Homo sapiens: one gene and its partner. The protein of the gene in region 1 interacts with the protein of each later gene in a biochemical or structural test. Each region holds a gene or a part of one and is shown on either strand. Other genes may lie near its edges.

Region 1 (3,751 bases):
AAAGGAACCTAATATCCACCAACTAGCCAGAATTAAAAAGAAAACAAAATTAATCAATAAAATGAGCAGTTAATGATAAATAAAAGTAACTTACCTACTTCAGTGAGTTGATGTCTTTCTAATGTTAAATTCTTTGGATCCTTAATAAAATGAAAGGGTTGTATTTTTATTCCTTCAATTTGAGGGAATAATAAAGCAAAACCAGATTCTCCAATTTCTATTTCCTGAGGTCGATTGCTACCTGATCCCATTGGAGTCACTAGAGAAAAAGTTAAACAGTTTCACCAATAGAGTCAGTAAAAACTAGATAACTACAGTTTAGGTCACTAAGATAATCATTAAGCTAACAAGCCACTATCTGAGTAAAAGTTTTTCAGCTTTGACAGTTTTAGGGTGTAGTGTCATGATGTTTGCCATTTAACTTTCAAATGGTTCAGAAAGAAATTTTTTATAAGCAAAGTGAGAAAAAATAAATGTTGCAAAATTTTTTCAACTGCTAAACTAGATAAAGGGTATATGGGTATTTATCATGCTGTTCTATTATTCTTTCAACTTCTCCATATTTTTCAAATTAAAAAGTTGGGGGGGTAGTAAATACACTTTCACAGCAATTCCAATTTTTAAAAGTTTACCCTAAAAATATTTGACAATTATATAAAGTATATATATACCCAAGTATTTTATCACATAATTTCAAATAGAAAATAAAAAGAAAAAACCTGAATGTCCCACACTGGTATTCAGATTAAAAGTTACATTGGTATCATAGAATATAGCCATTAAAATGATGACAAATATATATTTATAGACATGGAAATATGTTTGTAATATGCTCTGAATTTTACAGGTAGATATTACAGATTGAACTGTGTCATTCCCTCCCTACTGCCTACCCCAAATTCATGTTTAAGCCCTAACCCCCCATGTGACTATATTTGGAGATAAGGCCTTTAAAGAGATAGTTAAGATTAAATGAGGTCACAAGGGTAGGACCCTAATCCAACAGGACTAGTGTCCTGAGAAGAGGAGGAAGAGACACCAAGCATGCTTATGTATGAAGAAAAGGCCACATGAGAACACAGTGAGAGAGCAGCTGTAAGTAAGCTTCAGAGAGACCATCCCCGATCTTGGACTTCTAGCCTCCCAAACTGTGAGAAAATAAGCTTCCGTTGTTTAAGTCACCCAGTCTGTGGTATTTTGTTATGGTAGCCCTAGTAGACTAACACAGTAGGTTACAAGTCTACAGAAAATTGTATTCTGGTTTTTTATATTTACATACATATATAAATAGAGGTTAACATCATAAGAGTGGTTAACTCTGTGGTGCTTAAAGGTGCTTTTGCTTATCTGAATCTTCTAATTTTTTTTTTCTAAAAATAACTATTACTAGTATAAAAAAAGAAATAAACTTTTTTTTTTTTTTTTTTTTTTTTGGAGACAGAGTCTTACTCTGTCACCCAGGCTGGAGCGAAGTGGTGCAACCTCTGCCTCCCGGTTTCCAGCAATTCTCCTGCCTCAGCCTCCCAAGTAGCTGGAATTACAGGCATGAGCCACCATGCCCAGCTAATTTTAGCTTTTTTTTTTTTTTTGAGACAGAGTCTTGCTCTATCATCCAGGATGGAGTGCAATGGCGTGATCTCGGCTCACTGCAACCTCTGCCTCCCGGGCTCAAGCAATTCTCCTGCCTTAGCCTCCTGAGCAGCTGGGATTACAGGTGCCCGCCATCATGCCTGGCTAATTTTTGTATTTTTAGTAGAGATGGGGTTTCACCACGTCGGCCAGGCTGCTCTTGAACTCCTGACCTCATGATCCACCCACCTCGGCCTCCCAAAGTGCTGGGACCACAGACGTGAGCCACTGCGCCTGGCCAATTTTTACATTTTTTAGTAGAGATGGGGTTTTGCCATGTTGGCCAGGCTGGTCTCCAACTCCTGACTTCAAGTGATCCGCCTGCCTCGGCCTCCTAAAGTGCTGGGATTACAGGTGTCAGCCACCACGCCAGGCCAAAAAGAAATAAACTCTTTTTTTTAAAAAAATGTTAAGCCCTTTAGAAACCACAGCTAGAGCAACTGAACAAATAATATTCATTTGTAAACATGTAAAATTCTTTTTACCTCACTGTATAAGACTCAAATTCAGATCAAAAATCTTTCAGTGAAGATTAAAAATGACAATTCTCAGTAGAGTACTACTGAGTTGGAACAAAAAAACATAACAGCAGCCAGGTGCAGTGGCTCATGCCTGTAATCCCAGCACTTTGGGAGGCTGAGGCGGTGGATCACCTGAGGTCAGGAATTTGAGACCAGCCTGGCCAACATGGTGAAACCCGGTTTCTACTAAAAATACAAAAATTAGCCAGGTGTGGTGGTGGCGGGCGCCTGTGATCCCAGCTACTTGGGAGGCTGAGGCAGGAGAATTGCTTGAATCCAGGAGGCAGAAGTCGCAGTGAGTAGAGATCACGCCATTGCACTCCAACCTTGGTGACAAGAGTGAAACTCCATCTCAAAAACAATACATAAATGACAGCTAACATTTACTTACTGCTTTGTGTATCTCTATTGTAAATGCTTTACAAGTGTTAACTCATTTAATTCTCACAACCCTCCAAGGAAGGTACTACTGTCATCATCCCCACTTCCTTGATGAGGACAGTGAAGCCCCATGAAGTTAGGTAACTTGCTCAAAGTCATACAGATACTAAGCGGTACAGCCGGCATTCGAATCCAGGTATCTAACCATTGCACCATTACTGCCTCAACAGAATCTCTCCTCCCCCAGTTAACTACAGAAAAGAATCAAAAATAATAAAAACCAGCAAAAATTCACCAGCAGCAATCAAGCATGGAAAGGGGCACAACCTCATGCTGTAAACATTGAAGAGTGGTACCAAAGCAGAGAAACAGAAGTCTCCTAGTAAGGCCCAGCTTTGCTCCTAATCCCAGCCCCATCTCACCCCTACCCACCAAACACAATACTGCTTGAACTGACAAAACTCTGAAAATGCCCACAAATACTTCCTAATTTGGAGGAAGGCAGAATGAGATCATTCCCCTCTTATGAATGACTACTGGATATTTATACAGGTAACCTTGAGATGAGAAGTACAATAACTTAATAAACATTAATATAAGGCAAATATAATGCCATGGTAAATATGACTGACTTTATTGTATTTTAGATGGACAGAAATAGAAATGTGGTTCTAAGCTAAAAATAACTCACCAATCCAAAGGACCCCACATTAATGCAAGGAAGAAATCATCAAGTTGCTAATTTATCTCACCTACAATTCCTGGGGTCACAATCCCAAGGACTTGGCATTGTTTGGGGAATAGCTTCTCAAGGGCAAGTGCTGTTTCCATACTAGTTCTTTTCCTTGCTGTAAAAATACAGTAGCAAAATGATAAATATCATCCATTTAAAGTCAAATCTGAGAATGAAAAAGTAAAAAAGCAAATACTGGAAATATTTAAGTCATTTAACACGAGAATGCTCTAAATAAAGGTCTAAAAGCATTGATTAAAACAAACACTTTACCTGTTTTGGTCCTGGCTTTTAAATTATAAATCTGATCTTTTGCACCACTAGTCTGCCTTTCCCCTCTGTTCATATATTGCTTTTGCCCCAGTGATGTCAAATTTAGCAGTAACAGCTGAATTTTAGACTTGCTATTGTACCTTTCTGTTCAGCTGATATTGCAGTATAACTACTATTTGCATCAACAGTCACCTGGATCAAATTAGACAATGAG
Region 2 (3,751 bases), on another chromosome or scaffold:
AGAAGCTCTGGCCCCTATGGTGGTGCAGGCCAATACTTTACCAAACCACGAAACCAAGGTGGCTATGGCGGTTCCAGTAGCAGCAGTAGCTATGGCAGTGGCGGAAGATTTTAATTAGGCAACAAAGCTTAGCATGAGAGGAGAGCCAGCGAAGTGACAGGGAAGCTACAGGTTACAACAGATTTGTGAACTAAGCCAAGCACAGTGGTGGCAGGGCCTAGCTGCTACAAAGAAGATATGTTTTAGACAAATACTCATGTGTATGGGCAAAAAACTCGAAGACTGTATTTGTGACTAGTTGTATAACAGGTTGTTTTAGTTTCTGTTCTGTGGAAAGTGTAAAGCATTCCAACAAAGGGTTTTAATGTATTTTTTTTTTTTGCACCCAAGCTGTTGATTGCTAAATGTAATAGTCTGATCGTGACACTGAATAAATGTCTTTTTAAAAAAAAAAAACAACAAAAAAACCACCAATTTTAAATAATTCATGGGTCAAAAAAGAAAACAAGACTAAAATCTTGGATTATTTAGAAATTATAATAATGAAAATATTGCATAATGGAATCCATGATATTAAAGCACTTCTCAGAGGAAAAATCCTATAAGTAACCTTATATGCTTTCTTTTTAAAGTGAAAATTAGTAAGCTAAGCATTCAACAAATATAGAAGACAATTAAAGGAAAATGGCAGAGTAAACAATCAGAAATAAGGGAAAAAGAGCTGTACTTTAAATAGATTGAAAAGCTCATTCTTCAGAAATAAAGCAGATACTAATATACACACATTTCTGGCAAAAAATAATTTTTAAAAAAGGGACATCCTCTTGGATGTTTCATAAACAATTCAAACTTAGCTAATCAAATCTGATTTTCCTGTCAAATACTTATTTCTTCTCCTGTTTTAAATCTCAACAAATTGTACCACCATTTAAGTCAAAACCCAGGAGTTACTCTTTTTAAAGAAAAATTTTTGGCTGGGCACGGTGGCTCACACCTGTAATCCCAGTACTTTGGGAGGCCGAGGTGGGTGGATCACAAGGTCAAGAGATCAAGACTATCCTGGCCAATTAGCTGGGCATGGTGGCACGCTCCTGTAATCTCAGCTACTTGGGAGGCTGAGGTAGGAGAATCACTTGAACCCAAGAGGCAGAGGTTGCAGTGAGCCAAGATCGCACCACTGCACTCCAGCCTGGTGACAGAGTGAGACTCCATCTCAAAAAAATAAAAATATTGGCCGGGTGTGGTGGCTCATACCTGTAATCCCAGCACTTTGGGAGGCTGAGGCAGGTGGATCATCTGAGGTCAGGAGTTCGAGACCAGCCTGACCAACATGGTGAAACCCTGTCCCTACTAAATACAAAACATTAGCCAGGTGTGGTGCTACATGCCTGTAATCCCAGCTACTTGGGAGGCTGAGGCAGGAGAATCGCTTGAATCCGGGAGGCGGAGGTTGCAGTGAGCTGAGATTGCCCCATTGCACTCCAGCCTGGGCAACAAGAGCGAAACTCCATCTCAAAATAATAATAATAATAATAATTTGTAGAGGCAGGGTTTCCCTGTGTTGCCCAGGCTGGTCTCAAACTCCTTGCCTCTGGCAATCTTCCCACCTTGGCCTTCCAAAGTGTTGGGATTACAGGTGTGAGCCACCAGGCCTGGCCCAGGATTTATTCTTCACACTTCTCTCCCCCATTCAATCCACTATCAGGATATGTCTCTTCTGTTCCTATAATGAACATGTATGGAATCATCTCCCCAGCATTCTCCCCTTTATTTTCACTTGGAAAATGCCCCTTACTCCCACTCAAAAGTACTTTTTTCTTTTCTTTGTTTTCTTTCCTGTGTCACTCCTTTATTTTGCTATTTTCCCCTCAGGTGCAGAGAATTGAGCCAGTCATACTCGTTTATTCACACTGTCATTAACAAGCCCTTTCTCATTTTATCTTTTCTCTTCATTCCAGTTCCCACTAATGTTCCTTTCCTCCCTCCTTAGGTATTCACTCTAATGTGTTTGATATATGTCTTTGAATATACATGTATCTTTGAATAATATGTAATGTTTTATGTATGTATGTGTTTTAAATGTACCTAATTGATACTGTGTTACAGATCTCATTCTGTTTCTTTTTCATGTTTATGTAAATACTTCTGACTATTGCACACTGTTATCTTCAGTGACCTCATACCCTGGCCACTGGTCCTGGGCCAAGATGGGCCAGAGTCCTTACCCAGAATTTTTTTAACTGAAACTGAGAAAGAAAATTCCCCTTCAGTGTGGAAGCCATAAAATGTAAAACATACGAGCTGTCAGCAGCCACGTGTCAGTTGGTTCCATATGGAACCAACTCGCCTGTGTGAAAAAGAAGCCGACGTGCAGAAAGCAGCAGAGGTGAGAGACTAAGAGTCTGGGAAGCTGTCAAATCTCTGGTTCCAGTAGTTCCTGAAGCTCCATATTCCTCCCCTTACCATGGTTTGTTCATTTCTTCATGGATTCCATGAGCTAGTAAATCTCAACACCTCCACCTTGTGCCTACTAAGGTAGTACAAATTGAGGTTCTATCACTTGCAACTAAGAGGACTAACTGTTTACAACCTCCAAAATATATCTTATTTTTGATAGTGGGTTTTTTGTATTCTGGGTTTTGTTGTTGAGAGACAGGGTCTACATGTAGGAATGGAATCGGTAGATCATAGGATGATTCTATGTTCAATTTTTTGAGGAAGCACCATACTGTTTACTGTAGAATTACCACTACAGGCGCCTGCCACCTGCACGGCTAATTTTTGTATTTTTGGTAGAGATAGGGTTTCAACGTGTTGCCCAGGCTGGTCTTAAATTCCTGAGCTCAAGCAGTCCGCCCACCTAAAGTGCTGGGATTACAGGTATGAGCCACTGCATCCTGCCAAGGGGGCATAATTGACATTTATTCATAAAAATATTGAGACTTCAGGCCTGGCATGGTTTTTTGGGATTTTTGGTTGTTGTTTTTTTTTTGAGACAGAGTCTCACTCTGTCGCCCAGGCTGGAGTGCAGTGGAACATTCTCGGCTTACTGCAACCTTTGCCTTCCAGGTTCAAGCGATTTTTCTGCCTCAGCCTCCCTAGTAGCTGGGACTACAGGCAAATGCCACTACTCCTGGCTAATTTTTTTGTTTGTTTGTTTGAGACAGAGTCTTGCTCTGTCACCCAGGCTGGAGTGCAGTGGCATGATCTTGGCTCACTGCAAACTCCGCCTCCCGGGTTCATGCCATTCTCCTGCCTCAGCCTCCCGAGTAGCTGGGACTACAGGTGCCCGCCACCATGCCCGGCTAATTTTTTGTATTTTTAGTAGAGACAGGGTTTCACCATGTTAGCCAGGATGGTCTCGATCTCCTGACCTTGTGATCTTCCCACCTCAGCCTCCCAAAGTGCTGGGATTACAGGCGTGACCCACCACGCCCGGCCAATTTTTGTTTTTTTAATGGAGACGGGATTTTACTATGTTAGTCAGTCTGGTCTCAAACTCCTGAACTCCTGATCTCAAGTGATCCACTTGCTTTGGCCTCCAAAAGTGCTGGGATTACAGGCAAGAGCCACCACGCCCAGCCAACTATTTTTTGTTCTCTTGTTTTTTTGTTTTTAAGAGACAGGGTCTTGCTCTTGCAGTGGTACAATAACTCACTGCAGCCTTGAACTCCTGGGTTTAAGCAATCCTCCTGCCACTGTGCCCAGCCGAGGGGGCATAATTGACATTAAAAAATATTGAGTTTTCGGG

The links. The genes of interacting proteins can lie anywhere in the genome.
Region 2: the proteins of FBXO22 (region 1) and SRR form a complex in vitro, tested with the Homo sapiens proteins (one study listed by BioGRID).

Annotation. Positions count from the first base shown.
Region 1 is NC_000015.10:75,913,738-75,917,488, reverse strand, and holds part of FBXO22 (F-box only protein 22), read right to left. Parts: intron 3,380-3,751; coding exon 3,284-3,379; intron 260-3,283; coding exon 95-259; intron 1-94. UniProt on the Homo sapiens protein: Substrate-recognition component of the SCF (SKP1-CUL1-F-box protein)-type E3 ubiquitin ligase complex that is implicated in the control of various cellular processes such as cell cycle control, transcriptional regulation, DNA damage repair, and apoptosis.
Region 2 is NC_000017.11:2,307,605-2,311,355, forward strand, and holds part of SRR (serine racemase), read left to right. Parts: exon of another isoform or gene 1-2,386; intron 2,387-3,751. UniProt on the Homo sapiens protein: Catalyzes the synthesis of D-serine from L-serine. D-serine is a key coagonist with glutamate at NMDA receptors. Has dehydratase activity towards both L-serine and D-serine.